Homo sapiens: one gene and its partners. The protein of the gene in region 2 purifies or fractionates together with the protein of the main gene of each other region. This does not show direct contact. Each region holds a gene or a part of one and is shown on either strand. Other genes may lie near its edges.

Evidence for each region.
Region 1: the proteins of KHDRBS2 (region 2) and MVK purify together in Homo sapiens (affinity purification with mass spectrometry; 2 studies listed by BioGRID and IntAct, with this or other methods). This does not show direct contact.
Region 3: the proteins of KHDRBS2 (region 2) and ATG7 purify together in Homo sapiens (co-immunoprecipitation; 3 studies listed by BioGRID and IntAct, with this or other methods). This does not show direct contact.
Region 4: the proteins of KHDRBS2 (region 2) and ACAA1 purify together in Homo sapiens (affinity purification with mass spectrometry; 2 studies listed by BioGRID and IntAct, with this or other methods). This does not show direct contact.

The regions. Positions count from the first base shown.
Region 1 is NC_000012.12:109,590,794-109,598,865, forward strand, and holds the end of MVK (mevalonate kinase), read left to right. Parts: coding exon 1-68; intron 69-447; coding exon 448-564; intron 565-4,234; coding exon 4,235-4,388; coding exon of another isoform or gene 4,389-4,399; intron 4,400-5,632; coding exon 5,633-5,784; 3' UTR 5,785-7,332; downstream 7,333-8,072. UniProt on the Homo sapiens protein: Catalyzes the phosphorylation of mevalonate to mevalonate 5-phosphate, a key step in isoprenoid and cholesterol biosynthesis.
Region 2 is NC_000006.12:61,680,907-61,688,978, reverse strand, and holds part of KHDRBS2 (KH domain-containing, RNA-binding, signal transduction-associated protein 2), read left to right. Parts: intron 1-7,918; coding exon 7,919-8,016; 3' UTR 8,017-8,072. UniProt on the Homo sapiens protein: RNA-binding protein that plays a role in the regulation of alternative splicing and influences mRNA splice site selection and exon inclusion. Binds both poly(A) and poly(U) homopolymers. Phosphorylation by PTK6 inhibits its RNA-binding ability.
Region 3 is NC_000003.12:11,309,961-11,318,032, forward strand, and holds part of ATG7 (ubiquitin-like modifier-activating enzyme ATG7), read left to right. Parts: intron 1-3,343; coding exon 3,344-3,460; intron 3,461-5,383; coding exon 5,384-5,533; intron 5,534-8,072. UniProt on the Homo sapiens protein: E1-like activating enzyme involved in the 2 ubiquitin-like systems required for cytoplasm to vacuole transport (Cvt) and autophagy.
Region 4 is NC_000003.12:38,133,296-38,141,207, reverse strand, and holds the start of ACAA1 (3-ketoacyl-CoA thiolase, peroxisomal), read left to right. Parts: upstream 1-4,080; 5' UTR 4,081-4,172; coding exon 4,173-4,343; intron 4,344-4,522; coding exon 4,523-4,616; intron 4,617-7,198; coding exon 7,199-7,256; intron 7,257-7,316; exon of another isoform or gene 7,317-7,717; intron 7,718-7,912. Other genes in the region: myeloid differentiation primary response protein MyD88, read right to left, coding at 1-76, 360-451, 616-820, 1,210-1,344, 2,180-2,507. UniProt on the Homo sapiens protein: Responsible for the thiolytic cleavage of straight chain 3-keto fatty acyl-CoAs (3-oxoacyl-CoAs). Plays an important role in fatty acid peroxisomal beta-oxidation. Catalyzes the cleavage of short, medium, long, and very long straight chain 3-oxoacyl-CoAs.

The DNA of each region.
Region 1 (8,072 bases), on a different chromosome or scaffold from region 2:
TGACCAACACCAAAGTCCCTCGCAATACCAGGGCCCTTGTGGCTGGCGTCAGAAACAGGCTGCTCAAGGTGACTCTTGTTCCCTTCTTGGGCAGGTTTCAGGAAGGCCAGGACACAATTACATCTGGATTTTCGAGGTCTCCCTCTGGCTGATGGGTTATAGGGGGTGTGGTGGGTGGTGGGGGCCCTTAGGGAGGTGGTTTTGGCAGAAAAGAAGGTACCGTCCGTGCCCGTAGCCTGGCCAGGAAAATGACAGTGGTCGGGCTCGTTAGACACACTGACTTTGCAGCTGGGAAGGCAAAAAAACAGGCTCAGAAGAGAGGTGGTTTCCCCAGAGGATGGGCACGGGCTGTGTGAACACCTCCTCCCTCCACCCCACTGCTGGGGCAGCTGTCCTGCATCTGCCTGCCCCCAGGCCTCACCAGCCGTTCCTTCTTTTTTTCTCCAGTTCCCAGAGATCGTGGCCCCCCTCCTGACCTCAATAGATGCCATCTCCCTGGAGTGTGAGCGCGTGCTGGGAGAGATGGGGGAAGCCCCAGCCCCGGAGCAGTACCTCGTGCTGGAAGTAAGAGCCTGTCTGCAGGAACCGGGGTTACTGAGTCCACACCACTGTCCAAGGCAGTGGCTCTGCAATCTGGCTGTGCTCAGAATCCCCCGGAAGCTAGCACATAGAGGTCAGGACCTGCCTCTGGCCTATGCTCTCAGCTGGGCCCAGGTCTGTGCGTGCCATATAAGCGTATCTTATTTTCAGGCCTCTTCCTGGGTGATTCCGAGTAATTGGGAGAGTGCAAGGGAGGCCAGGGCCTGGCTCGTGCTAAGTGCAATGGAAACAGGTTTGGGTCACTTCTAAGGAGCTCTGGCCCACGTAGGTAGATGGGGATGTGGCTGATGCAGAGTGCTCTGTCGGTGCAGGGGTGACTTCTTGGTCACTCTCCTGCTATTGCTAACTTCATGGGTGCATTCAACAACTACTTGTCAACTGCCTGCTTTGGGTCAGACAGATCCTAACATTGTTTTTTCATCATTGCAACCCCATCCACTGCCATTTGCATAATTCTAGTGTAGAGGTTGTGACCTGGTACTTTGGGTGTGATCAGGCCTGTGTGTGAATCCCAGCTCCACTTCTGCTGGACGTGTGGCCTCGCTAGAGTGTCTTAAGAATGCTCAGATTAGACGGGCGCAGTGGCTCACCTGTAGTATTAGCACTTTGGGAGGCCAAGGCAGGTGGATTGCTTGAGTCCAGGAGTTCGAGACCAGGCTGGGCAATGTGGTGAAACTCTGTCTCTACAAAAAATACAAAAGTTAGCCAGACATGACGGTACATATCGGTAGTCCCAGCTACTCGAGAGGCTGAGGCAGGAGGATCACTTGAGCCCAGGAGGTCAAGTTTGTAGCCTGGGCGACAGAATGAGACCTTGTCTCACACACACACAAAAAATGCTTGGAGTCTCATGGGTGACACGCAAGCACAATGTCTGGTGTGCTATGAGCTTAGGGAACCAAAGAGCCCAGGCTCCCCCTGGACACAGTCCACCTGGCCTGGTGAATATGGGCTGTTAGCCATCTGGCTGCCCTTGCAGAATGAGAGGATCGGGTGGCCCCTAGCTGCCGTGGCTGTGCAGCAGCCGTCAGTGAAGGGACAGGAGAGGGGCGTGCGGTCTCCATGTCACCACAGTCCCTCCCCGCGCCCCGCACTCTGTAGTCATTGCCTGGTGTCTCCCGGTCCCCCGTGGGCATTCGAGTCTGTAGCCCCTGTGCTGAGTGGAAGCTGCCACTAAAGCAAGCCTTTTACAAATGATTCTTTTCACTTGATCCTCACACCCACCTCCCTGTGAAGTAGGTGTCTTATCCCTATTTTACAGATGTAAAAACTGAGGCCTGAAGAGAGACTTCCCCCAAGGTTATCCAGCTAGTGAGTGGCCGAGCCAGGGGTCCAGCCGACGGACTGGTCTGTCCCTTTATTCAACAGATCTGTCATGAGCACCTACTATGTGCCAGGGCAGCGCCTCCATCGAATTCCTGTGTTTCGGCCCTCATTCCCTCAGTCTTTGTCTTCCTAGCTCTCAATTCCTTCCACATAGAAAGGAGGGAACACAGTCCCCCCGAGTAGGAAATCAATAATGATAGAATACTGCCTAAAATACACCCTGTCGAGTCCCTGGAGAATGCCACAGAACAGCACGTTGATTATACATTGTGTGTATTTTTGGCTGTGGCAGCCGCTGAAATGTGCAGCTCAGCTCCTGGACAGCTTTGCACTCAAACCAGCGAACTGTTCTCCTGTGTCACAACCTGTCATCTGATCCTTGACAGATTTTGGATCAGAATGTGACAGGTGTCTGGAACCTGCCTCGGCAACGTGACACCTGGTGCTCAGGCGCAGAGAGCGGCCCCCAGAAGTCTTCTCTCACATCCAGCCCATCAGGCTGGTGAGAGGCACCCGGGGCTGCCACCAGGCCATCATGCCTGTCTGCTCATTTGTCAAAAATGGTGAGCTTGGCGCAGAGCGAGGTATGAGGCAGGCTGTTGGGGAGGGCCACTCCAACCCTGCCTGACCGGCCATCCCCATGCGGGAGAGCTAGGTGGGCCTCCGCAGAGATGCCTCAGTGATTGGCAACTCCTGGTATACAGGCAATCCAGGTGCCCCGGAACAGAGCTTCACACGGAAGTGAGGAATGCCAGGGGGTGCTCTCAGAGGCAGGGTAGACAGGAGCTTCATGTCAGGCAGACCCGCCTTCCAGTGCCAGCTTGGTACCTACTAGCTCAGTGATCGTGGGCAAGTCACTTCTTCTCTGAGCCTCTGTTTCCCCTTTTGTAAAGTGGGGATGATGCTAACGTACCCATAAAAATACTAACAGCACATATCTCGTGCCAGGCATTGAACAGAAAACTCACCTTGTTTCGTCTCAGGGCAAAGAAGCAGATTTTTTTTTTTTTTTTTTTTTTGAGACAGAGTCATCTTGCTCTGTCGCCCAGGCTGGAGTGCAGTGGCACAATCTTGGCTCATTGCATCCTCCCAGGTTCAAATGATCCTCGTGCCGCAGCCTCCTGAGTAGCTGGGATTACAGGCACACGCCAACATACGTGGCTGATTTTTGTATATTTAGTAGAGATGGGGTTTCGCCATGTTGGCCAGGCTGGTCTCAAACTCCTGACCTCAAGTGATCCACCCGCCTCGACCTCCCAAAGTGCTGGGATTAAAGACGTGAGCCACCACACCCTGCTGAGGCAGATACTCTTATGACCCCGGTTTACAAGCAGGAGACAGACCCAGTGCAGAAGACCTTGCTCAAGGACACACGACCAAAAAGGGGCAGAGCAGAGACTCGAACACAGGCCTACTTGACTCCAAATCCCATGGTTTTTACTTCCTGATGGCTGGGACCGTGGCTGGGCACCCATCCTTAGAGCCCCAGCACGTTGTGGGTGTTTGGTAAATGAAATCTAACTACTGGGTGCCTGGGCAGTGGAAGCTGTGAAGTTTTATTTTTTCATCCACATGCATCTTGTTGGATCCTTAAAGAGCAGGAAGTTTATCCTGCATAACTGAAGAAACCTAGACAAACAGCTGTTTCCCTGCTTATGGCCTTGCTGGAGTTACACCTAGTTCTTATTCTGAAACCAGTCCCCAAGGCAGCTGTAGGGAGGCATGTTATTTGAAACTTTTTCTCTTGCAAATGGCAGAAATCCATTTCAACCAGACTTTTGTAGAAAGGGAATGTATTGGCTCTCAACTGAGAAGACCAGAGGTAAATGGCTTCAGGTATAGCTCAATCCAGGGGCTGAAACAATGTGTCGGGAATCTGTCCATCTGCCACGTAATATCTGATCATGTGGCAAGATAGGTCATCTTGGCGACTTGTGTCTGAAGTTAATTATTTTAGCAGCTCTAGTGGGAAGGGGCAGAGGAAACCCTGGGAGGGCTGTGATTGGCCCAGCTTGGACCACATGCCCATCCCTGATCAGTCACCAGTGCCAGAGGCTTCTGTGACCAGCCCTAGGATATGTGCTCACTGCTGTGGTGAAGGTATGCTCAGCTCTACCCAAGCTCCGTGAGAAATGCTGCAGGGCAGAAGGATTCTTTTACAAGTGGAGAGGGCCAGGGTGCCAGGTAGGCAAAGCCGTTGGCTGTCTCCAGCCAACAACTGTCAGATGGACGAGGCAGGCTCAGGGGTGGGCATAGGACCTTGGCCTCAGGCAGGCCAAGTGGGAACAGATGGAACCTTCTCCCCTAGGAGCTCATTGACATGAACCAGCACCATCTGAATGCCCTCGGCGTGGGCCACGCCTCTCTGGACCAGCTCTGCCAGGTGACCAGGGCCCGCGGACTTCACAGCAAGCTGACTGGCGCAGGCGGTGGTGGCTGTGGCATCACACTCCTCAAGCCAGGTATCCCGGGGGTAGGTGGGCCAGGCTGCCAGCCTGGGCTCCTAAGAGGGGTCCACCTGGAGAATTCCCTTGAAAGGAAAAAGAGACCTGGAAACAGGTCTCAGCTCCGCTGTGTGGCCTTGGGCAAGTTAGTTAACCTCTGGTCTTTGCTTCCTCATTGGTAAAATAAGGATGAGAGTATCTAGCTTGCAAGATCGTTGCCCAGATTCAAGCAGGAAAGTGCACCTAGAGAGCCTGGTGCAGGGCTGGGCTGTGGCTGGGGCTCCTGTCATCGGGGCTGTCCGCACAAGCTTGGGAAGTAACCAGGGCATTGTCACTCTCCACGTCTGCCTAACCTTGCCCCACTTGTACCCTTGATGTGGTCAGGATGCGGTTGATTTTGCTACAAAACGAAAGGGTTTCCTTCCCGTTGGTTTGGGGAAAGAGGAAGACCGAGTAATGGGCTTGGCTTAGGAAGCTCCCTGGTGCCTGGGGGCCTGGCAAGGGGCTTCTGCTAGTGTTTAACCACCTGACACCTACCTCTGCCCTCAGGCTCGCTCCTGGCCTACAGTAGGCACTAACCGGTCCCACCTGCCTCCATTTCCCTCTGTGCTCCTTGTCCCCTCCTTCCTTCCTTCTTTCTCTTTCTGTCTTTATCTCCTCCTCTCTGTTCTTCATCCTTCCTTTCCCCTCTGCTTTGCACTGAGCCCCCTTAGGCTCCAGACATCCCCTCACACTCCATGATGGCTCCCAGGCCTCAGGAGGTGGCCACATCCTCACTCCAGCCAACCCCAACTGTTGGTTCCTAGTTCAGAGCCCATGACGATGGTGGGACTTGACATTTCTGGAGTGTGCCCGCTGTGCCAGGTGTTGTGCCAGGCACTTTACCTGCGTTATTTCCTTTAAGCCTCCCTGAGATCTGCACGGGGAGTCATCATTAGCCCCATTCCCAGATGAGGAGACTGAGACTGAGAGAGGGGAAGTCACTTGTCTGAGGCCACACGGCCAGTACAAGGCAAGGCCAAGTCCTGTGACTTGAGAGCCCATGTTTTTAACTCTTGCTCCCTAAACCCCTGGGGGTGCAAGGCTGGGCATTCCAGTGCACGGAGGGGCTGCAGGTAACCTTGGGCTTTATGGCCTGTTGGCTCAGGTGGGTCACAGCCAGGAAGGCACAGCAGGAAGGCCTGGGCTTTTGCCTTGAATATGATGAGCTTCTCCCACGGAGCGGAGAGTTGTCAAGGGTGACCTGCCTTCCCTCCCCGCAGGGCTGGAGCAGCCAGAAGTGGAGGCCACGAAGCAGGCCCTGACCAGCTGTGGCTTTGACTGCTTGGAAACCAGCATCGGTGCCCCCGGCGTCTCCATCCACTCAGCCACCTCCCTGGACAGCCGAGTCCAGCAAGCCCTGGATGGCCTCTGAGAGGAGCCCACGACACTGCAGCCCCACCCAGATGCCCCTTTCTGGATTATTCTGGGGGCTGCAGTTCGACTCTGTGCTGGCCAGCGAGCGCCCAGCTCCTGACACTGCTGGAGAGGCCCCAGCCGCTTGGCGATGCCAGCCAAGCTCTGCAGTCCCAGCGGTGGGACCTAGGGAGGCATGGTCTGCCCTCTGCATCCTCTGGAGCCAGCCGAGCAGGAGGCCTAGGAGGGTCCTCTGAGACTCCAGACCTGAGGCGAGAAGGGCTGCTTCCCTGAAGCTCCCACAGTCCCATCTGCTTCAGGCCCCCGCCTTGGCCTGTGTTCTTCCTGGCCGCCTGGGTCCAATGCTCAGGTGCTGGGGCCTGGTTCCCGGAGAAGTGTGCCTTCTCTCTCCCTTTTCAGGGACCGCCCCCTGTCTCTCAGGGCCAGGCCTCTCCCTCCTCCAGGAAGCCTTCCCCTACCCCTTGTCGCCCCTCCCTCCCAGAGCACCTGCTGTCTGGGTGGCTCACTCAGCACTTGGTGTGGCCTTCCCTTCTACCTAGCGGGATGGGGCTCCCCCAGGGGCTGTCCCGGAGGCGGTGGGCCTGGTTAAATAAGGCAGGGTTTATATGCACTTTCTTCCGATCTGTACCTGAGAGGTTTGTGGAAAAGATGGCAAATGGGGAATAAAAAGATTTTGTGTCAACAGTAGAGACTCCAGGCCACCAGCACCTCCCTCTGTCCCTGTCCCCTCTCCAGCTGTTTCCTCCATGGAGCTCTTCAGCAATGGAGGGAAATAGGGTTTGGGGTCACTTTGTTGTGCGTCTTGGGGATGAGGTGGCTTTTCCCAGATGGCCCTTGCTGGAGAGGGACTGGGACACGGCTCTCAGTCCATCAGCACAACTCTAGGCTGCTGCTGCGGAGGGAGAAGTTGAGCTTCCTAGCTCCAGAATCACAAGCACCCACGAGAGCACAGACCTGTGTAAGACAGGAAAGCAGAACCTGCCATCGCTCCTGGGGCGCGCCTTCCTTTCTGAAATGAACTGGCTGGATGGAGAAAACAGACTCAAATGTTCTGGCCCGGGTGCCTGGCACTCCCCACCCCCGCCCCCCACCGGCCCTATTTGAACTTTATATTGCAGTCAGCTTGGTGCTTTCCGAAATGCCATTAGCCATCAGGAAACCCTTGTAGTTGGTGCCTTGCCAGCCAGAACCTCTGGGACCCACGGACCTGCAAAGAGGCCGAGTGGAAAGGTGGGGGCCGGCGCAGGGATTTCAGGATGAGGTGAAAGCGATTCAGTGCGCGTCTGCCCTTGGCCACTAGGGGGCAGCTGGCGGCCTTCCCTGCTGTTGTCTTCCTGCAGGGTGAGAGGAGCAGGAGCCGAGCTCCACCCCCACGCCAGCCTTGGGCCCGGCCTGGGATCACTGCTGGGAACGTGAGAGTGAAGGGAGGACGCCTACCCCAGCTTAACTTGTAGAAATGGCCCCAGATCACTGATGGCTGTTCCCTGCCCCTTCCCTTCAAAACACAACGCATAAAGCAGTAATACTAATTAATACTGAACGCTCACTGTGGACTAGGCGTGTTTACGCATCGCCCCTTCTCATCTCTGCCCCGACCTCAGTGTCATTGCTAGTCTCATCCCCGCTTTACAGACCAGGAAACCAAAGGTCAGAGAGATCGAGTAACTGGTGCAAGTCCACACAGCTCATCAGCATCTGAGGCCGGATTCAAATGGACTCCAGAGCCTGCTCTTAGCCCCTACGTGTGTCTGCTGGGTGCGGCTCTGTGTGCAGGCTCACTGCGATTTTTTAGCTTTCTGTGCTCAGGCTCGTTTTTCTGGATTCGGATGTATTTGACCGGGGTGGGGCTCGGACCTGCATGTTTTCCTCCCCACGCGATTTTAATGAACAACCAGGCCAGAGGCTGCTGTGCCCTCAGTGATGGCGCTGGCTGACAGCCAGCCTCCAGCCTTTAGGAGGTGGGCCTGGGAGCCTCCCCAGGCTTCCATAGATGTCCGCGGCAGCTGTGAGATGGGTGCAGGGGACAGAGGCTGAGACCCCCAGAGCCCGTCTGCTCCTTGAGGCCCTCTCTCTCTCATTCCCTGGGGACAGGATGTCACTCCTGGGGCAGGGGCCAGCTCAACACTCTTGCTCCAGTGAAGCAGCTGCCGGTGCGCTTTGGCCAGAGCAACCTTTCAACCCAGCCACCCCTGCGGCCACCATATGGGCCTGGTGTCACACTCCTGGCTACCTTGTAGACAGTTGGCACTTGCGGCTGTCACCCCTTCTCATTGCCTATTGCAGTGG
Region 2 (8,072 bases):
TATTATGGTTAGTCTTCCCGGCATGACCATTGCCATCTTGAATCATCTCCTTAGTATAAACTATAAGGTGTGGTTGAAGGGGCTCACCATGAATAACAAAGACACTCCAATCACTTGGGAAATTTTAGGATTTAGAGCTTACCTCCCAGTAACCAGGGACAAAGACTAACTAAGATCTTTCACAAGTGGTGGGAGCCAATTTATCAACCTGGAAAAGCAGGGAAAGGCACACTGTGGTATAAACACAGGCACTTGCACTTAGAGTAGGTCATACAGAAAGATTAACATTTGTAGAGCTGAAAACCTGATTTTCTCTAATTGCTATAACTATGGCTCATTTCTGCTCTTAGGTAGAAAAATGAAGAATGTAGGGGGAGTAAGACAATCAGGTAACTACAAATGTAATCTCTGTCTATGAAGCTCTGTCACCAAGCCTACCTTCTTCACTGAGTTAAAGGGAGTATTGGAATTCTTTGAGAAGAGAATTATACCATATTACTTTATACCACCATTTTTATTCTCCCTTCTGTTATTCCTCATATTATAAACTCCTTATGTGCATTTCAAAAAGCCTCTAGCTGAATTCCGCAGTCTTTTGAATGATTCAGCATTTTATTTGACAATAATGAAAGTACGTTTTAGACTTTAGTCAGATAACCTTCTACATTGTGCCAAATTATCATTCACCATTTTTTCTGTATGTTCCATTTTGAAAATCCTTTCTCTAGCTAGCTTCTTTGTCTCCTTTTTATTTAAATGAGTTATTAACTCCATAGCAATAAGATAGACACACACTTATTTAAAAATGTTAAGAACCACTGGCCTGTATTATTCTACAGCTGCAGGATACTATACAGCAGAGTCAAGCATAAAATATGTTTGTTTAAATTTTAATGACATATATAATTTTCAATTATTAATGGATGATAATTAGAAATAAAATGGTACAGATTGAGTCAATTTATTAAATACAATAATGTATAGGACAGGGACTAGAACTGAATAGGCAATTTGAAAACACCACCACTACCACCAAGAAGTTTGAATTATGGGGATTCTTTCTAATATTGCAAATCACAGTGGCCTCACCTGGGAAAACAGAAGCTGATAAAAATTATGCATCACATGCAAAACTACCTGGAATATTGTTCTTGGCACAGCCTGAAGTTTGTCAGGAATATTTTTTAAGCTTCCTTGAGTTCACAATTAGAATATAGCAGTAATTCAAACCAACTAAGCTTAGGCACAGAAGATAAAATTGTGAAACCAGGTTATAATATGGAAATTAGGTATATACATAAAGTAAATTGGAGATATTAAGCACAATAATATAAAAATACAGAAAAGTTAAAAAATGGTTTTAAGATTGCAGAAAGGAATCTTTCAACAAGAAAAAGGCAGGATAGTAATGCAAATGCAGAACATCTGTAAGACTCTGGGAACTACCGTTCAAAAGTGAAGGAATCCATCTGAGGGAAGCCTATGGGTCTGAAAGGAAGATGCAAAATATTTAAATATAATTAATTTATTGAGTAAATGATTACTGAGTGCCTGCCATGTGCATGGTAAGATTTTAGGGTTGAGAATGGAGTTCAAAGAAAGGCTAAGTCCTTTGTTACTCTCTGAATGGATTATCCCAAGTGATACATTTTTTCTAACAGAGGACATCTAATTAAAAATTTGAAAGAGTGATAAAAGTTGTAAATGCTTCCCAGAAGCTGATTGAATTTTCTGAGAGGACAAATGATGGTGAACTCAAAGTTAGCAACCCTTTTTCTTGGAACATAATGCACCATGTTCATCTGTGAAAAGAGATGCTGGTCACCCATATTTCTCCCTCTTCTGTTACCCTCTGCATCTTAAAATAATAAACTATATAATTACAAATAGTGGGAATACATGTTGTACAGTTGAAATGGTTGAGCCATTGAGTTGCAAATTTCCATTAATATTTTAAAATGCTCAGAGCAGTGCAGAGAACTCTGCATTCCACTTTGGATTTGCACCTTCACAAATTCAGTTGAAGCGGCCCACATTCTTGCTAACAAAATTAAAACTACAGTAAATCTCATTTTTTTTGGCTAATTAATTGTTGTTGGAATCAACACTAATTATTATATAATTAATACTAATTATATAATTTAAGGGAAGTAAAATAAATTAAGTCTTGTTTTATAGGGGGAAAAAAAGAGGAAAAAGAGAAAGGGTTGGTGAATAGATAGTGAGACATTTAGAGACAAAAATTCTGTATTTTCCCAACAACTAAACTTTCTGAGTCATAGTTTCCTCAGCTTTAAAAAGAAGGTAGTGTCAACAGCTACCTTGTAGGAAAATTGTGATATTTGCTAATAATATACACAAAACACCTAGCACTGTGATAGGCCCTTCAAAGTTGTGATAGAGTTTTTTAAAATATGATAGGTGTTTAAACATTAAGTAAATAAAATGGATGCTATCATAATAGTGAGTTGCAACAATAGCAAAACATCTAACCTAACATATTCTTTGGGATTAAATAGCCTCAAAACAACAAACATATATTTGAAAGGTGCTTTCAAATAGAATAATACTCCTTAGAAACATCAGAAACTTAGCTGAGATGAACAAACTGAGTGGCTCAAAGCCAGGATGAATTTTAATCAACCATGTCGTAATGCCATTATATGATTTGCAAAGCAAAAACACTAGCGGTTTGTAATGGTAGAGACTAACTTGGGTTTCCTACTTTAGTTGTGATTTTTGCATATTGATTTACAGTGTACCAAAAATCGCATGAGCTTCCTTCGTTTTGCTGTGGGTTTAACAAGCTTCTTTTTAGATTCTTTTCCATATTTCAGATATACAGACAAATAGCTATCTAAGATAGCAAAATAAGAGTATCATGACTGCACTCAGTAAGCTCCATGATCTCCTTTATCCTTTCTGAACTGATCTCTAATATTAATTTCCTCTTAGGTGGCATTTTAAAACTACTTCCTGAAAGATAAACATTAAAAGTTTGCTTTCCAGATACTTAAATAATGTCAACTTTTCCTGAATTGACCCCTCGTTCCTATGCTTCATGTTTTTCCCAACTACCTCAGTATCTCTGGAACTATCAGAGAACACAGTTTTGCAACTTTAAAAATCATCCAGATTTTTCTTTCCCACTGTGAATGCTCCCCAAGGTACCTGGTCCCACTGCAGAAATAAGAACACATTGACAAATGCATAGCACTTAATAGGCCTCATTTCGCACAGTATTTGAGATACAGAAACTTTTGAAGTCACAGTAATATTTAATGCACAGGAGTTACCTAGGTAATTTACATTCTTCTATCACAGTCAAATGTTCCTCAGTGACGCTGACTACCATGAAATAGAGATGCACTCTAGGCAGTCTGTAAAACCTGATTCACTGGGTAAAATAGCAGCCTAAGTTAATAAAAAACAGATAGAACTTTTGAAAGAAATATTGACATATACTGTATACATGCAACATGACAACCTAATTGCTAATAATGCCTTTCTGAAAAGTTCTATTTTACTTATTTTGCATAATTGGTTTGAAACCCCTTTTTTATTTAGTAGCACCATTTATTTATATGCAGCTTACAAATATTCTTATTTGCTCTTATTCAGTGTCTACCACTGTAGACGATTTCTCCTTTCATAGATCTTAGAGTCCAGTTTAGAAACAAGGCCAGATAATACAAAATAATTAACACAGGAAAGTCTTTAAAGAAAGTGAATTCTCTTAGATAAGTTAAACAGCACCTGTGTTCTTACTAAGTATATTTGCTCAGAAAATCTCTTCTTTGAGATGATTAAATGTTAGAGTTCAATGCAAGTTCAACTGAATGATGAAAGTTAGACCTCCCTTCCCTGTGCTTTCCCCAGCATTTTCTTAAAACATCAATTAAAATTGTGTCATAACCTATGAAATTTCAGGTTCATTTTTTCCTGTGTCTTTTATGGGCCCCTTAAACTGTCCTTATATGCAGGACATAGTATAGTAACTGGCATATAGGAGATCTTCAATAAATAAAAAATGTGTTTAGTGATGCTTTATTATTCATATAATAAATATAAATTTATCTAATATTTCTTATAATATATGATACTTTAAAGCCTGAATTGGAAGCCAAAAAAGGGTGGCAATTGGATCAAGTCACTTAACTTCTGTTTCTCATATCCTGATTTGCTATTTTCAGATTCACAATTATGTAACCCATTCCATAATTTCAATTTGGCGTATAGTTATTTGGTACCTTTTTTGAGGAGGAATTTGTTATTGGATTAATTCATAGCCTAGCCAGTGCTTCTCATGTGACAATGATCCTGATATTGAGAGAATCTTACTTATTTTATCATTTCCCTAAAGGATAAAGAAATTTCTAAATTTCACTGGATGCAATGAGTTTTTAAATGACATCTTAGACCACACCATGGGACTAGAAAAAAACAGGACTCTAAAATTCGTAGGAAGGCTTTAAATATTTAGAATCTGCTTGTCTACTGAGAGACCCAAGAGGACAGATAAATTCTAAGTTCATTCGTGGGTCTTTACAACTTCAAATTTCAGAGAAACTCCCATCATGAGGAACCCAGTCATGATTTGTCTCTCCCTATGTTTGGGCCTCTTCCATGCTCAAGGTTCCATGGGACTCAGGTTAGAATCCCTTCTATATGTGGTACTTGCAGTGAAGAAATCCAGAGGCCTAAATATCGCTGGTGAGCAATGAGGGGCTTGGCCAACCATATAAAGTTCAATGACACACTCTATGGTGGCACTGGAAAAACGTTCATTGGTTCAGTACTCTCCAATCTCAATCCAAAGAACATATTTTCACTAAGAAAAACTGACGTGCATTATCATGTGGCAATTGTAAATGTGTAACTATACATAAACATTCTGATATTAGGAAAGATAAAGATGGACACAAATAAAAATAATACTTTTCCTGATCTCTCTTTGCTATTGTTACCAAGAACATGTAAACAATGGAAGCAAGGTCTGAATTAAGTGAAATAAGTCCTTAATTTCCTCTGCTAATGGTATGGAATCTTGGAAAATTAGAAACTTACTTTTGCTTGGATAGGAAATCACTTTGGCTGGCGATTTACTTTTCCACGTACAAGTATCATGAACTAACAATAATTTCCATTTTCCTAGCCTTGAGCAAGGAGAAAGAGCATAGTATTAATTCACATAGAAGCAGAGCGTTATAAAAGAGCACATATTTGTGCCATGAAATATGATACTTTTGTACTTTTTAATAATGAGATCGCACTACGATTACTTCATTGAATTCAATAGTGAAATATTTTTGATACTTAGATAACCCTTTTGAGTAAGAAGTCTGATCTTTAACTCTATAACAAATATATAAGATTTCTAATTAAAGAGTTTTTTAAATAAATGTTAAATTTCTTTAGCTCAACTGTTTCTGTTTTTTGAATTATCACTGGAACTTTCTGCATAGTTCCCTTGTTCATTCATCCATCCTTTCTTTCATGTAACCTTTCACTACATTCAGCCCTAACTAGGCATTGAATTTCTCCCAGGCACTTGGGAAACAACAGTGAATAGCAACAGTCCCTATTCTAATGTTGGCTAACATTTAGGAAATGAAGAGTTTTAGCTCATCAATTAACTGCCCTAGAGATTTAGAAAAAGTCAACTGAAGCCAAGTTGATGAGTAGTTATTAAACACTTATGTCCTCTGTAGCAAGTCCCTAGGTTTATGTCAATTTAAAATTCTGAAAAAATCTGGGAGTGTATGTGACAAGTATTCTGTCACTCCGCTCATGATTGTTTAGCTGTTTTTCAGGAACATTCAGAATCTAAAAAAGGACCTGGGACTTCTATTTCCTGGGAAAACTTGAAGCCTCTATTGTCTCAGCTCTTAAATCCTGTAGAGTGAAACCCAGGGATTTCTAACACTCTGGAATAATTGGAGCAAAAAGTAGTACATTCTTTTTGTTAAAAACCATGATAAATTGGGATACATTTTACCATCAGAGGACAAAAACAATGATATAGCCTGGATTATCTCATAAACGTGGTGTAAATATTCATTTTACATAAGGCTAAGAAGGTACTTTCAAGCTTGCACACACTGAATGTGTTTTCCCTTTGAGTACACCAAAAACAGTTTTATTTAGTTCCAATCAAGCAAATACATGGAATTCTTTTCATTTTTATGTTGATAAAGTCAAATGGTTTGGGGATAAATTCCTGCCCTCAAAAGATTACATCAGAAAGACCAACATCTGCATTTTCCCACCAAAAACAACATGGTCTAGAGCACAGATCTGTAAACTTTTTCTGTAAAAGCCCAGAGTATAAATATTTTAGGCTTTTCAAGCAGTATAATCTCTATCACAGTTACTGAACTTTTCCTTTGTATCGTGAAAGCAGCAATAGACAATATGTAAATAAACAGCATGCCTGTGTTCCAGTAAAACTATTTATAAAACAATCAGCTGGCCAAATTTGGTTCACAGGCCAGAGTATGCCAACCTCTGATCCAAGTAAACCTGTATTTTGAGCAATGGGAACATTTGTTATATTTATTTCTTTCTTACTCCTATTTTATATCCTATAAAAGACTAAACAGTGAAAGAGATATAATTTTTTATTTATTATCAGGTATCAGTTGTAATAATAATGCCCTGGTGAGAATATTCTCAAAAAACTAATATTTGTCCACTTAAGTGCCATTTTTCCCAACAATGATAAACTTTTGATCATTTTTCTACATAGTAGATTGTTTTCATTTGCTCTATATTATAATGAGTACAATTGAAATTTTTTATGCTTTTCTAGTAGTCTTTCTCAACTAATTCTTATGATCGGAGGAACTATCTGGGGGCAAATGCCCTACATTAGTTGCCCTCAATCTGCAATTGTTTCCCAGTTAATATTTCCATTTTTTTATATATCAATTATCAATATCTATGCGTCTCTAGTAACCTTCTTTCCTTTGTCTGCACCTCCTTTTACACACCCATGCATGAAATCTGCTCTTGATGAGGAACTAAATTCTGATTGAGAGACCAAAATAACCTAGTTGCTGGAATCACATAAAATGTCACCATAAAGCCAACATTGAGTTATTTTAAAGAAGAATTGCATTTCTTTTCTGGGGACACAGATTTTACAATAGCTATTTTCCACAGTACTCAAAAGCTTGGTTACTTGTTTCTTGCTTTTTTGGAATAATAGATTTCTACTACCCTCAATGTTTTGGAACCTAGCCAAAATTAGCAGGTAAATGGAGTTTTCCTGGTGTACTAATACTTCTTTATTTACTGAGTTGTTTACTTGGAAAAACTGATATCTTTGTGTTTTGTTTTGTTTACTGATTTTGCTGCTTAAGGTTTTTTCTACTCTATATTCTGCTTGTCTCTCACTTTCTCTATACAATTTAACACAATGGATCTCAACCCTGGACCATATAACTATCATCTGGGGAGTATTTGAAAAATACCAAACCGTAGGTCCCAGCCCATAGAGTTTTCTAATCAGTAGATTTGGGGGACAGAGAGCAGGTGTTAGTTATCTTTTATTTTGATTGTTTAATATTTCCAGGTGATTCTCAAGTTATTCAAGGGCTAAGGACTACTGGTTTCCTATATCCAATTTATTTATTTATTTTTAAGAATTCTATGTAAAAAGATTTTATGGGCAGGGGTTTACATTGATACTCCTCTTTCTATTTTGTGGCATTTAAATCTAACACATAATAAATACACAGTACACATTTATATACACACACTTTTTTGATGGTCTCACGATGTGGAAAAAATAGGCTTTAGCGTTCGGTGTTGAGATCTTTTGTTTTCTTTTTCTCGGTCAACTATTGTGTCTTAAATGACTATTTTTGGTAACTGTGAAGTCATGTGTGTGTTACTATCTTTCTCTTTTTCACAGCACCAGAAGAATGGGCCACAACCCGCTCTAGCTTGAAGGCACCACCGCAAAGGTCAGCCAGAGGGGGATACAGGGAACACCCCTATGGTAGATATTGAAGGTCCTTCCCACCTGTGACCTCACCTCAAAGACAATTCATAGCCTGTGGTCTCCA
Region 3 (8,072 bases), on a different chromosome or scaffold from region 2:
GCCAAGAGTTTGAGACCAGCCTGGGCAACACCTTGTCACTTCAAAAAATATAAAAATTAGCTGGGTGTGGTGGCGCCTGCCTGTGGTTCCAGCTACTGGGGAGCTGAGGTGGGAGGATCATCTGAGCCTGGGAGATTGAGGCTGCAGCATGCCATGATTGCACCACTGCACTCCAGCCTGGACAACAGAGTGAGACCCTGTCTCAAAAAAAAAAAAATACTGTGGTATATTGAAAAATATATAATATTAGCCATATTGATCTTTTCTCCTGCTCATTTTACTTCTTTAGAATAAGTTCTTTGGAGCGGGCATATAAACACAGTAATGTTGCTGTGTATTAAGTGTGCTGTTTCACCACAGCATCATCAGCTTTGGACATTAATCCTCTTTCCCACTTCTTTTTTTGGCAAGTTTTCCTTCCCCGACCTCCCACCGTTCCTCCTAGATTCCTAGATGCAGGGGAGGCCTCTGATTTATTGCCCAAGGCAAAGGAGGGTATGATAGCAATCAAACAAGGCCAGTGGGTGGCTATCTACAAGGAACACATTTTCTAACAAGTTATAATGCTTTCTATGTAATAGTGGAGGAGAGAGAAAAATGTTTAAATTTTTTGTCTGATTACTTGGCTCAGTTTGGCATTAATAATCTGTCTATACGTTTGGGTAATTCTGTAGTTTTTTTTTTTTTTTTGAGACGGAGTCTCGCTCTGTCACCCAGGCTGGAGTGCAATGGTGCGATGTCGGCTCACTGCAAGCTCTGCCTCCCAGGTTCATGCCATTCTCCTGCCTCAGCCTCCTGAGTAGCCGGGACTACAGGCACCCACCACCACACCCGGCTAATTTTTTGTATTTTTAGTAGAGAGGGGGTTTCACCGTGTTAGCCAGGATGGTCTTGATCTCCTGACCTCGTGATCCGCCCGCCTCGGCCTCCCAAAGTGCTGGGATTACAGGCATGAGCCACCGCATGCAGCCTGTAGGCTCTTTACTGGGATAAATTGTAAGCATTGCTAGTTAAAGATTTCTAGTTACTTGAACGTCAGTACGCTTTCTGTACCAAGAATTCTCATAGTAGAACATGCTGACAGTTTGCATTTAATGAGAAAAATAACATTAGCTCTTACTTAAAGTTTTAAGGTTTGCCTAGAGTCAGTATGTGTGTTGGTCTTGCTGCCTTGTTTACTGAGCATTCTTAGCCTGACTTAAAAAAAATTGTAAGTATCTACTTTTTAAAATCTTCAGACACCAAGGACTTTATGTTTAATTTAATGGAGGTCATTTCTATCCTGAAAAGAATCCTAAGAAATGCAAGCTTTTTGACTTTTGAAAATGACCTGATAAAGTTTCTTAGAATTCGTGAGGTCCGGCCGGGTGCAGTGGTTCATGCCTGTAATTCTAGCGATTTGGGAGGCCGAGGTAGGCGGATTGCCTGAGCTCAGGAGTTTGAGACCAGCTTGGGCAACATAGTTAAACCCCGTATCTACTAAAATTAAAAAAAAAAATTAGCTGTGCATGGCAGCCTGTAGTCCCAACTACTCGGGAGGCTGAGGCAGAAGAATTGCTTGAACCTGGGAGGTGGAGGTTGCAGTGAGCTGAGATCGTCGTGCCGTTGCACTCCAGCCTGTGTGACAGAGCAAGACTGTCTCCAAAAAAAAAAAAAAAAAGATTTTGTGAGTTTCTTCATCTTGAATTGTTTAACCTTTTACTAAATATCGGTTATGACAAATCATTTAAGTACAAAGAAGAGAAAATAATCTCTGGAGGTGTTTTTGCTTTCCTTCTGCTGTTTTTTAGGACTCATAGGACTAGACAGTTCATTAATTTCAGCTTTGCAGTTCATTTTGCCATTGTGAAGAGGGAATTTTTTCTTAGTTGATCAATGAATAGCAGAATTAGAGACCGCAGAGATTACAATTATTAGACTTTCTCATCTGTACACATGATTACATATACATTTACATTTTAAAACTCATCTAGTATGATTTCATTTATATGAAAAGTCCAGACTAGGAAAATCCACAGAGACAGAAAATAGATTAGTGGTTGCCAGGGGATGAGAAGAGGGGGAATGGGGAGTCTCTGCTAATATGTATGAGATTTCTTTTTGGAGTGATGAAAATATTCTGGAATTAATAGTGATGATGGTACAACCATATCACTATACTAAAAAGAAACCACTAAATTGTATACTTTTTAACATGGTGAATTTTATGGAACGTAAATTATATCTCAATAAAAAGTCATCTAACAACCATCCAATTTTAATTCTTAGCAAGATTCAAGAAGAAATATTAATTAGCTACATAAACTGCATTCATATTCAGTGGTCACAGGCTTGTAGGCAAGCTGCCAAATACCCACATATGTCTGGAATGCTACCATGAATTTAATTAAGGCCCCAAAAGCTGTAAGAATTCTGAAGCAAGAGCCATTAGCGTGAGTGGGAACAGTGTCAAAGACAGCCTCACAAATCCTTTCCCCTGGATCTCCTACCCTGGTGGGGGATCGGTCAGATATACCCGTGAAGATGTAACCTCTTCTATTCACCCATCCAGCTTACTACTTAGAGCCTCTCCATGGCTCTAATCATGCACTCGCTTTATCTCTGCTCTGTCCACAAAGTGAGCTGCCTGGTGTCTGGGACTGGGGTTTATTCATCTTATTGTCAGTGTCTTATGTTTTGCCTTGTACATAGCAAGGGCTTGATAGTTGTTGACTTAAATCCACTAAGCCATTTACAAAAGCAATATTGTATTATTTCAGGCATGCATACATATGTGAATAGCACAGCTTCCTTAATAACATGTAATTTATTTGATTGTGAAGAGAATGGTAACTGTTTGGAAGTTGTGCTTCTGTAGATAGTACATTAAGTATCTATGGTCAGTGGAAAAAAGCTTAAGTTTTGGAAGCAGAGTTCTGATCTCTTCTCTGCCCCTTGCCATCTTTTTTGTTGTTGTTTAGGTTTTTTACCCCTTTGTAAGATTCAGTTTTCTGTTTATAAAATGGGATAATAGTAAATACCTCCCAGGGGGGTTTTGTAGGTTAAAGGATGATGATGATAATATCAATTACATATTGCACATTTTCTGTTAGCAAGTGGTCAATAAAGTATATTATGTTTGTCATCATATTATTAGTGGTGGTATATGAGACTATTTTGGGAATACAAAAGTCCTTTATTTGATCATGAGTTCTGTTGGGGATGAGGATATTTGATAAGCTGGACAGACTTTGTTTGCATAGCTTTGCTATCTTAATTGGCCTTGAGAAGCTACATTAATAGATGCATTTCACCTTAAGTTAATGGTGCTATTCTAATAACTTATTTATACTTTTTTTTCTAGGATCTAAAGAAGTACCACTTCTACTATTGGTTTTGCTATCCTGCCCTCTGTCTTCCAGAGAGTTTACCTCTCATTCAGGGGCCAGTGGGTTTGGATCAAAGGTTTTCACTAAAACAGGTATCAACAAATAACCAAAATGCACATAAAATTGGGTTGAATGTGCAAGAGTAGTTATGTAGTTCTTTCCAAAGACAAACAGGCACTTCTCTGGATGAAGACGTGGTAACTGAAATCCTCCAAAGGTGGTACTAGGAGCAGACTTATTTAGAAAATGTTTGTAAAGTCATTTTTTTGTATATATATTTATATATGTTTTGAGACTGGGTCTCACCCCCATTACGCAGGCTGGAGTGCAGTGGCACGATCACTGCTCACTGTAGCTTCAACTTCTCAGGCTCAGGTGATCCTCTCATCTCAGCCTCCTGAGCACCTGGGACTACAGGCATCCCATCACACCTGGCTAATGTTTGTCTTTTAATAGATATGGGGTTTTGCCATGTTGGCCAGGCTGGTCTTCAACACCTGGGCTCAAGCAATCTGTCCACCTCAGCCTCCCAAAGTGCTGGGATTACAGGCATGAGCCACCCTGCCTGGTCTGTAAAGTCATTTTGAAGATGTAGTGCACAGTAATTTTCCAGGTTTTCAGTGGTATTTGGTGAAATGCTAAGCCAGTAAGGGGGAATTATAGGAATATTTTGAAACACTGAAAGAATTTACCAAAATGTGGTCTTCATTTTCAATGTGGGGAAACATAAGGCAGTATAGTCTGGGAAAGAGTCTTTGAAACAAAACAGAAGGCATTCTCCTACCCTTGTACCAAGTTGCAGAACTTTTCTACCTGGAGCAGTACATGCAGAGTTAGTCGGTGACATTTGGGATAGATAATAAGTTCATTAGAGATGGTTCCCAGAAGAGCAGTTAAAATAATCAGGCTGGTATAACAGAGACCCTAAACTAGAGAATTCTTATTGTTGTTAAGGCAAAGATTATGTGTCAAGATGATTTGAATTCTTGAAACACATCAATCACTAAAGCCCTGAATACTGATGCCATCATTCAGGGAGCTCTCTTGGAGCTGTTCAGGGAGCAGCCATTATTGATTAAATTTTTTTTGTTGTTGTTCGTACAAATCCGAGGTTGTGGTTTTGTGGAACTAATTTCCCAAGAGGAAATATAAGTAAGGAAAAAGGATTTTGGCTGAGTATTGACTGCTGGCAGGTATGGGGTTTCTTTTATTGAGGACAAAAATGTTCTGTAATTATTGCTGTGGTGCTTGCATAACCCTGTGAACATACTAAAAAAACAAACAGCACATTGCATTATGTACTTTAAATGGGTGAATTGGGCCAGGCACGGTGGCTCACAACTATAGTGTAATTCCAGCACTTTGGAACGCAGAGGTGAGCATACCACTTGAGCTCAGGAGTTCAAGACCAGCCTGGGCAATATCGTGAAACCCCATCGCTATAAAAAATACCAAAAAAGTTAGCTGAGCCATGGTGGTGTGTGCCTGTGGTCCCAGCTACTCAGGAGGCTGAGGTAGGAGGATTGATTGAGCCCAGGAGGTCGAGGCTGCAGTGAGCTGTGATTGCCTGGGTGACAGAGCAAGACCCTGTCTCAAAAAGTAGTAAATGGGTGAGTTGTATGGTATGTTAGTCATGTCTCAGTAAAGCTGTTGAAGATTATGGAAAGGTTCGGGGTAAAATTCATCAGGGGTAGATTCATGTTGGGTTATCATAGGAGAGAAAGAATGTTTCGTTACCGCTCTAAAACTCTGATTGACAGCTTAGGGAACTACCATGTTGTAGTCCCTTTGTGCCCCTAAGACACACACCACCATGCCCCTGGAAAGTGTTATATAAAAGCTAAGTGGTATTATTTGGAGGCACTTCTATGTTCACTTGCTGTAATAGAGTAAGAGGAGTGTGATCAGTCATTTCTAGTCTTCTGGTTTTAAGGTACCTTTTTTTTGAGTTAGTTTTTAGCCCAGAACTAGAAATGTAATTTTCTAGAGAATAACAACGTGTTTTCTGTTTTCAGATTGAAGCACTAGAGTGTGCATATGATAATCTTTGTCAAACAGAAGGAGTCACAGCTCTTCCTTACTTCTTAATCAAGTATGATGAGAACATGGTGCTGGTTTCCTTGCTTAAACACTACAGTGATTTCTTCCAAGGTCAAAGGACGAAGGTCAGATAAACTTTGAGTATCATTTTATTATATAGTTTTTTAAAAAATCTGAAGTTCATGTTACAAGAGACCACTGCAAAATTCAAACTTGTTTAGATTTCCTTAGCCTTCAAAGGATGTTTAAGAACATTTCCTTATCTCTATCCTCTCCCACCCCTACAGTTATCGAATCAGCTCCTCTAGGTTTTTCTAGCTCTACTACAGCTCAGAATAATTTTGATACCTTACTCTTTTTTTTTGTTTGTTTGTTTGAGATGGAGTCTCGCACTGTTGCCTGGGCTGGAGCGCAGTGGCGCAATCTTGGCTTACTGCAACCTCTGCCTTCCTGGTTCAAGCGATTCTCCTGGTCAGCCTCCCGAGTAGCTGGGACTATAGGTGCCCGCCACCATGCCTGGCTAATTTTTTGTATTTTTAGTAGAGACAGAGACGAGGTTTCACTATGTTGGCCAGGTTGGTCTTGAATGCGTGACCTGCTTCGGCCTCCCAAACTGCTGGGATTATAGGTGTGAGCCACTGTGCCCAGCCAATACCTTACTCTCTATTAGTGCTAAAGTTATTTCCGTTTTCCCTCCTGATGTATTTTACCCTCTATGTTTTAATTTTTATTCCCAGAACTACCCTGTAGTTCAGGCCCCTCATATCACACTCCTGGACACTTAGAATCTTGTTTCCATGTTGTGCAACACTACTGTAGAAGAATCTCCCTTGAACTACCCACATTTAGTGTATCATTCATTGACCAAGAGCATAATGGTGTCTTCCTTCTGGCTCCAAGCTGCCTTTCCTGCCTTATCTTCCATTATTTTCCTCATAAAGCATTGCTCCAGCTAATCTTATCTATTTTTCTCCAGAATCTCCATCCCCTTCCCGTCAGATACATCTAAAACTTTTTTTGTATCTTTGTTTTTCCTCGTGTTGTATCATCTTCCTAAAACATGTTCTACTTGTGAAAACCCTAAGAAATTCTCTCTGTCTTATTGAAATTCTATCTCCACTGTGAAGCATTATCATGGTGTGGCCATATATGATCTATCCCTATCTGAAGTCACTGCATTTATTCCCTGATCCTCATTTGCAGGTCCAGTACCTTGTACAAGTTTCTTTTTGTGCCATATTAGACTGTAAGCTCCAAGAGGGCAGGGCCCAAGTCTTATGAATTTGTGTCTGCATAGTGTCTAGTACTTGTCTGAGGCCCTCAATAAAATTCTTTTGAGTGAATGAAAGAGTACCGTAAATGTCTTTTAGAAGTGATCAGATATATAGGAAGTTGTCTTAGCCATACAGGAGACTATGAATTAAAAATATCAAAGATTATGAGTGTTATGAAGTTCTGAAATCAAATGGAATCATCTCCATAGCCATGTGAATATATCAGAGCTGAAAAAAGGAAAGCCTTTAACTGACGGTCTGGTTATTCTTTAGCCTGAACTTAGGATGACTTTTTTTTTTAAAAGCACATTTTAAAATCAACTACATTTACATTTTATTTTTCAGAGGAAGCCCACCTCCCCTTTTTTGTTGTATTTTTATTAGAGATGGGGTTTCACCGTGTTAGCCAGGATGGTCTTGATCTCCTGGCCTTGTGATCCGCCCACCTCGGCCTCCCAAAGTGCTGAGATTACAGGCGTGAGCCACCACTCCTGGCCCAGAGGAAGCCCTTTTTAAATTGAGGACTGAAGATTGAATTTTTATTAAAATTCTTTCCCCCAGGTGATTTCACAGAACCACAGCTAAATTAGTATAGCAATAAGACCGTTAATAATTTAAAGTCCAATCTAGTGTGAAGTCCTCTTGTCATAGCAGGCAGGATTAAATGGCCTGTGTTTGGAAGCGACCGTAGGTCAGGTTGTATGTGGTAAATAAGTGGTCCTCCCCAAAGTGCAGCTCTGCCAAAATAATAACAGTTTGAACAGTGCTTTACAATTAATTTAAAAGGGACTTTCACATACTTGATCTTTTTATGATAAGTCTGTGAAACAAGCGTTAGTTACTACCTGTGGTTAGTTAATTAGTATCTGCATTTTCTGTTTGAGACTCAAAGTCACACGACCACATTGTCTGATTCCGAAGCCTATGCCCTTTCTTTCTTTCTTTTTTTTTTTTTTTTTTTTGTTTTTGAGGCAGAGTCTTGCTCTGTCGCCCAGGCTGAAGTACAGTGGCACGATCTCGGCTCACTGCAACCTCCGCCTCCTGGCTTCAAGTGATTCTCCTGCCTCAGCCTCCCAAGCAGCTGGGACTACAGGTGCGCACCATCATGCCCAGCTAATTTTTGTATTTTTAGTAGAGATGGGGTTTCACCATATTGGCCAGGCTAGTCTCAAACTCCTGACCTCGTGATCCTCCCGCCTCGCCCTCCCAAAGTGCTGGGATTACAGGCGTGAGCCACTGTGCCCGGCCACAAGCCTATGGCCTTTCTACCATTCCCTTGACCTTGGGGAAACTGCATAACTTTTCTTTGTATTAGTTTATCTGTTAAATGGTGGTAATGCCACCTCCTTATAAGGTTTTGTGAGGATTAAACATGATAATGTGAATAAAA
Region 4 (7,912 bases), on a different chromosome or scaffold from region 2:
ATGAACCTCAGGATGCTGGGGAACTCTTTCTTCATTGCCTTGTACTTGATGGGGATCAGTCGCTTCTGATGGGCACCTGCAAGCCAAGGGGTGCCATGCTGGCATCAGGCCCTTGCCCCATGGTGGGACAAGCCCAGTCTTCAACCCCAGGGTTAACAACAGCCATCCCCCATCTAAGTACCCCTGGCACACATTCACTCACACAAAAAGGCACACACATGCACACATGCTCAGGTGTGCAGAGATCTTCAGCAGTTCTTTGGTACTGCATCCACAGTCCTTGGGGAGGGAAGGCTGACAATCCAGAGGCCCCACCTACACATTCCCTCATTCTCTTGCCAGAGCAGGGTTGAGCTTACCTGGAGAGAGGCTGAGTGCAAATTTGGTCTGGAAGTCACATTCCTTGCTCTGCAGGTAATCATCAGAGACAACCACCACCATCCGGCGGCACCTAGGGGAGAGTGGGCAGGCTGCAGGTCCTGTGGCAACTTAGTTCAGCATATCCCCTGGGAATAGCTTCAGGAAGGGCCCACTGTGCCCAGGCTGGACAGTGCACAGCTAGGAGGAGATGCCCAGTATCTGGACCCCAGGGCAGGGCTTCATGCATCCACGCACCCACCCCGTGGCCTTCTAGCCAACCTCTTTTCGATGAGCTCACTAGCAATAGACCAGACACAGGTGCCAGGCAGGACATCGCGGTCAGACACACACAACTTCAGTCGATAGTTTGTCTGTTCCAGTTGCCGGATCATCTCCTGCACAAACTGGATGTCGCTGGGGCAATAGCAGATGAAGGCATCGAAACGCTCAGGCATATGCCCTGGGTGCAGAGCACAAGGGTGGTGGTCAGAGCTCCATGGGAAGGCTTGGGAGGGATCCAGCCAAGAGTCCCCTGCCTAGGCAACCCTGGGCCCTGCACCCTTCCCAAGATGATACTCCTCAGAGAAAGTGCCCTTTCCAGGAGAGGAAAGATGAGTACCTCAGGGGCTAAGCTCTGGATTAACCACGAGACAGACATTATTTCATGAGCATCTCACAGCAATCCAGAGGTAGGACTATTATCTCCATTTCTTAGGTGAGGAAACTGAGGCTCAGAAAGATTAAGTGACTTGCCCAAGGTCTCACAGCCCATCTGCTTCAAACACCCATGCTCTTAACACCACAATGTCCTATTCCACCTGTCCCATGGGAACAGTATTGGACCCTTACCCAGGGGGTCATCAAGTGTGGTGATGCCCGCCAGCTCTGCTGTCCGTGGGACACTGCTGTCTACAGCGGCCACCTGTAAAGGCTTCTCAGCCTCCTCCTGCTGCTGCTTCAAGATATACTTTTGGCAATCCTCCTCTGTGGGGAAGAGACAGAGTAAAGCAGCCTCCCTGGGAGTGCCTACCTCTTTACCCACAGTCAGGATCCAGCCGCTGTCCCACCTCCTCTGGCTGGGTTGTTCTAGAGGGCTTCCCCAGTTCACTGGTGCCACGCGAAGCTCAACGGCTCTGAGAAGTTGAGCTCCCACTGGCTCTAACTGACCCAAAGGGATGTCAGTGGTGTTCTGGCTTTCTGGAAGGCCATCAAAGTCAGGTTTGTATCTCTGTCCCTTCCTAGGGATCCTAAGAATGGTACCAAGGTAGGTCTGCTTCTTCTGGGATCCAGGGCAGATGTGAGCAAGGGGCTGGGCATGCCAGAAAGGCTCAGGAGACCCACTGGTTATGGTGCAGTGATTCCAACTCAGCAAGGTGTGCCTGTCTGTGGGCGGCTGTATCCAACGCCTATGCATGTATATTATGTAAGTGCCAGTGAGTAGAAAGAAGGGCTGCATTTCCCCAGGACTTGAGGTTTCTAAGACAGTCCACTGTCAATCGCCCCACCTGTCCTGTTGCTCTACTTGAAACAGCCCAGATGCCCCCACAGAAGCCTGATTCTGACTCCTGGCCCTACCTGAAAGCCTCTGCCTAAGCTGCTTCCTTCCCATCTCCGCCTATCCGGACCTTTCTCCAGTCCTTCTTAATAACCGCGACCGGTTATTAAGAAGGAACGGGACCCGCATGGTTCTCCCTCTGCAGGCTTCTTCGGGCCCCCGAGGCAGGAAATGGGGTCTCTCCATGGGAGACAGGATGCTGAGGCCGCGGAAAGTCAGCCTCCTCACCCCCCAGGTACGAGGCCAGGAAGGGGACGTCCTCACCAATGCTGGGTCCCAGCTCCAGCAGCACGTCGTCGCGGCCCAGCTTGGTAAGCAGCTCGAGCAGTCGGCCTACAGAGGCGCCAGGGCGTCCCTGCCAGGCGTCCAGCAGCCTGCCAGTGGGGTCCGCTTGTGTCTCCAGTTGCCGGATCTCCAAGTACTCAAAGTCCATCTCCTCCGCCAGCGCGGTCCAGTCGGCCGCCACCTGTGTCCGCACGTTCAAGAACAGAGACAGGCGGCGCCGCACTCGCATGTTGAGAGCAGCCAGGGGAAGGGAGGATGTGGAGGAGACCGGGGCCGCAGACCCCGCGCCGGGACCTCCTGCAGCCATGGCGGGCGGTCCTGGAGCCTCAGCGCGGTCGGGTCGCATTGTCTGCCAGCGCTTCCTCTTTCTCCTGCGGCACCCGCCCCGCCCCGCCGGCTTTCGCTTTCCGAGAAGCGCCGCCCTGCCCTACAATCTGGAGCCCCGAGCAAAAGTGCGGAGGCGGGGGTGCCCACCTCTACCCTTGAGGTCTCGAGGCGGGTGATGTGGGGGGCGTAAGAAGTAGGAATCTGCCTTTTGAGATCTGGAGAGGTCCACGGCACCGCCCTCGAGGGTCTGGTGATGGTGCTAGTAGGTTGGCGGCGGAGTGAGGACGACCCTCCTTCGGGGGTTGTAGGAAACGGGCCTTGCTTTTTGGGATCTGGTGGAGCCACAGTTCTTCCACGGAGGAATCTGAGGGGTTCATACGGTCCTGCCCTCGAGGATGGCGAGGAGGGGACAAGTGGGAAGGCACCAGCTCTGCCCTCCACTGTCTCTGGGGAACACGCAATCCTGCCAGTAGGGGTATGGGAAGACCCCTGCTGTGCTCCCCGAGGTGGGAGTGGGAAACGGACAGCTGCCTTCTGGAGCCTGAGGCATGCCGTGGCCCTGCCCTCGAAATGGTTGGGGACGTCATGACACTAGGTTGGGGAGCACAAGGCACCCTGTCCTTTGGTGTCTGTGGAAAGCCCAGCACTACTCTCCAGGGTCTCAGGTGAAGACATGGCCCTGCTATTGGGAGTCAAGGGGGCACGTGGCCTTGCCCTTTAGGTTTAGGGACACAGTCCTGACCTGGGGAGCCCTGGTTCATTCATTTACTCATTCGACAAGTACTTATTGATCATCTACTAAGTGTCAAGGGTGTCGCAGGCTCCCCGGATACATGGTACCTCTCTGCCTTGGTGGAGACCCCAGCCTAGCACGGGAAATGGGCACTAATAAAATCATTCCAATTGGGTGTAAAACTGGTAAAAGTGTGAAATGTTCATTCTCCAGTTAGAGAGCTTGTCACACCCCGCATGTCTGTAAAATCTGTTCTCCCGGCCAGCCCGGAAGCCCAAATTCCCTGTCTTCTCGAAAGAATGGGAAAGCCCAACCACGTCGGAGCAGGACTCGGGCGTCTCGGAAGTATTTAGGTCCCCCAGCTCGGGTACTGGGACCGGAGGGATAGCAGAGCCTCCTAGGAAGTGGGTAGAGGAATTAGAGCCTCGGCTTCCATCTCCAGCCCCCAAGCAGTAAGCGGTCCTGGCTGCCCAGCCTTCCGTTTGGCTGCGGGCAGGAGACAGGGATTTGGGGGTCAGGTCTCGGGTTTGGCTACAAAAGGTGGAAAGACTTCCGGTCTGCATTTCTGGGCGGGGATTCGTAAAGATACACCTTCTGGTTGGCTGCGGTAGGCCAAGGTAGGCGGGGCATTGAGTGGAAAGCTCGGCTGGGCGGTGCCTGTGGGCCCTCCTATAGAGGGCTTGGTAGGCGGTGGCGGGGAGGGGCGGGTTCCCAGGCCGACTCTCCTTGTGGTTGGCTGAGGCTGGAGGTGGACGGGACTTTTGGAGGGTCGCTCGCGTCTGTTCGCAGAGCTGTGGGCGGAGTTGAGGCCTTGGAGGCTGAGATGTGGTTCTGCGCGTGTGCGGACGGCTGTCTGTTAACTCCGCGGTCAGTTCCCGGACTGGTGGCTGGTCTGCAGGGTTGACCTGCGCAATGCAGAGGCTGCAGGTAGTGCTGGGCCACCTGAGGGGTCCGGCCGATTCCGGCTGGATGCCGCAGGCCGCGCCTTGCCTGAGCGGTGCCCCGCAGGCCTCGGCCGCGGACGTGGTGGTGGTGCACGGGCGGCGCACGGCCATCTGCCGGGCGGGCCGCGGCGGCTTCAAGGTGAGGCCCGAGGGTCTGGGCGCCGAGTGTGGGAAGACGCCGGCGCGGGCTGGGGTCCGGTTCGTATGTTTGGTTATCCTGGACGCCGGAGGCAGCTCCGCACCCAGCTGTGGTCGCTTTGTCTCCCTGGGGTGGGCATGGGGGAGTGGGGGTCACTGCGGCTGCTCTTTCTGCTGCAGGACACCACCCCCGACGAGCTTCTCTCGGCAGTCATGACCGCGGTTCTCAAGGACGTGAATCTGAGGCCGGAACAGCTGGGGGACATCTGTGTCGGTGAGCGAACCACTCAGGCCCTGCGCTGGGCCTTCCCCGTTCTTCCGTTCGTCCAGAGCTCTCCTCACCTCCCCGCCCCGAATTTTCACTGGGGGAACCTCCATGGCCTTGACCTTTGAAGGGGTCCTGCCCCTTCACACCTGTGGGTATTTCTCGTCAGATGGGAGGAGAGACTGAGAAAAGAAATAAGACGCAGAGACAAAGTGTAGAGTGGGCCCAGGTGACCGGCATCGGTCTCCGAGTTCCCTCAGTATTTATTGATTACTATTTTCACTATCTCGGCAAGGGGAGTGCGGCAGTGTGGGGGAAAGGAAGAGAGATCAGACTGTTACTGTGTCTGTGTAGAAAAGGAAGACAGAAGAAACTCCATTTTGATCTGTACTAAGAAAAATTTTTCTGCCTTGAGATGCTGTTAATCTGTAGCCTTAGCCCCAACCCTGTGCTCACAGAAACATGTGCTGTATTGAATCAAGGTTTGAGGGATTTAGGGCTGTGCAGGATGTGGCTTGTTAACCATTTGTTTGCAGGCAGTATGCTTGGTAAAAGTCATCGCCATTCTCCATTCTCGATTAACCAGGTACACAGTGCACTGCGAAAGGCCGCAGGGACCTCTGCCCAAGAAAGCCTGGGTATTGTCCAGGTTTCCCCCCACTGAGATTGTCTGAGATATGGCCTAGTGGGAAGGGAAAGACCTTACAGTCCCCCAGCCCGACACCCGTAAAGGGTCTGTGCTGAGGAGTATTAGTAAAAGAGGAAGGCCTCTTTGCAGACACCCGTAAAGGGTCGGTGCTGAGGAGTATTAGTAAAAGAGGAAGGCCTCTTTGCAGTTGAGATAAGAGGAAAGCATCTGTCTCCTGCTTGTCCCTGGGAATGGAATGTCTTGGGTGTAAAACCCAACCATACATTCTATTTACTGAGATAGGAGAAAACCGCCTTATGGCTGCAGGTGAGACATGCTGGCGGCAATACTGCTCTTTACTGCACTGAGATGTTTGTGTAAAGTCAAACATAAATCTGGCCTATGTGCACATCCAGGCACAGCACCTTTCCTTAAACTTACTTATGACACTGAGTCCTTTGCTCACATTTTTTCCTGTTGACCCCCTCCCCACCATTACCTTATAGTAATGGTATATAATGCCACATCCCTCTTGCCAAGATAGTAGAGATAGTGATCAATAAATACTGAGGGAACTCAGAGACCAGTGCTGGTGTAGGTCCTCAATTGCTGAGCACCAGTCCCCTGGGCCCACTTTTCTTCCTCTATACTTTGTCTCTGTGTCATTTCTTTTCTCAGTTTCTCGTCTCCACCTTGCGAGAAATACCCACAGGTGTGGAGGGGCAGGCCCTCTTCAGGCAAAACGGGGTGAACAGGGTGATGGTGGGGAGAAGGTCAGCAGGAAAACATGTGAGTAAAGGAATCTGCATCATAAATAAGTTCAAGGGAAGGTACTGTGCTGAGATGTGCATGTAGGCTAGATTTTTGTTTCTCTTTACCCAGACATCTCAGTGTAGCAAAGAGTAACAGAGCAGTATTGCTGCCAGCATATTTCGCTTCCAGCCACAGGGCGGTTTTCTCCTATCTCAGTAAATAGAACCAATAGTCGGCTTTACACCGAGACATTCCGTTCCCAGGGATGTGCGGGAAATAGAGGCCTTCCTCTTTTACTAATCCTCCTCAGCACAGACCCTTTACAGGTGTCGGGCTGGGGGACAGTAAGGTCTTTCCCTTCCCACGAGGCCATATCTCAGGCTGTCTCAGTGGGGGGAAACCTTGGACAAATACCCAGGCTTTCTTGGGCAGAGGTCCCTGCGGCTTTCCACAGTGCATCATGTCCCTGGTTAATAGAGAATGGAGAATGACGATGACTTTTACCAAGCATACTGTCTGCAAACATATGTTGACAAGGCACATCCTGCACAGCCCTAAATCCCTTAAACCTTGATTCAATATAGCACATGTTTTTGTGAGCACAGAGTTGGGGCTAAAGTTACAGATTAACAGCATCTCAAAGCAGAAACAATTTTTCTTTGTACAGATCAACATGGAGTTTCTTATGTCTTCCTTTTCTACATACACACGGTAACAATCTGATCTTTCTTTTCCCCACAATCTTCAGTCCAGCCCTCTATTCCACCCCTCACCTTGAAATACAGCAATATGATATGGCAAGAGTCTTATCCAGCGGATGCCACCCCTAGGTCGGCAATCACTGTTCCACCTCTCTGGGGTGACAGCAGGGCTCACAGGAGGATACCTGGGGAGATGTGCATTTTCAGAAACTCCCATTTCACTTTTAAGGGCAGACAACCTGCCCATCTGTGCTGATTTGGAAAAGCTGGGTGCATGGGCAAGTGAGCGTGGGACCCTCAGGGACAGGAGCTGGTGGATGACCAGGACAAGCTGTTGTATGGCTGGCTCTCCCTGCCCCAAACCCTGATGTTCCAGAGTTGCAAGTGAGCCTGCCAAGGGCTAGTGTCCCGAAGAAAGATCTGGAATGCCTCATCTCTGGTTTTCACAGCTATACTTTAGTGCCCAGAACACCACCGCCTGGCACTGAATGAAAGTTTGTTGTCCACAGGAAATGTGCTGCAGCCTGGGGCCGGGGCAATCATGGCCCGAATCGCCCAGTTTCTGAGGTAAACTTTTCTAGTTCTAGCCATGGGTTGGCCATTTTGACACTTTACTGGGCCCAGGCCCCAGGAAACTCAGTGTGCAGGTTGGGGAGGATAAGGTTGGACACCAGAATGAGGCAACGAGAGTCCTTGGCTCCCTGCTCTTGTGGACTCAACCTCTCCCCTACTTTGAAGTGCTGAGCCACGATACACAAAACCTTTGGGACTGGAGCAGAAGTTCTCTGTAGCTTGATTTTTAGCCAAAGCCAGGTTGTCATTTGCCTTTTGTGAGTGTGGACTCTGTCCTCATTTGTCAGGTGAGTAATCAAGTAAGAATGCTGAAAAGTGACTTTCAGCCTTTTTACTAGTTGAGCTGAGAACTCCAGTCATATCCCACTAGCAGAGACTTTGGGATAGGGCAGAACCATGGGGAAGGAGGACCCTCAGGAGGAGACCTGGTCAACTTTCCTTTAAGCGCCTGCAGGGTAAAGAGTGCTTAAATTATTTTCATGTGTAGATTTAAGAACTGCTTGGCTTTGTACTTCTAGATGCATAAATAAATAAATAGGAACATTAGCTAGTGAAGGAACAGGAAAACAACCCTCTAGGAACTGGGAGAGGTTTAGACTGCCCAGCCTGTAGTTCAAGGCCCCCTACAATCTGGCTCCAGACTTACCTTC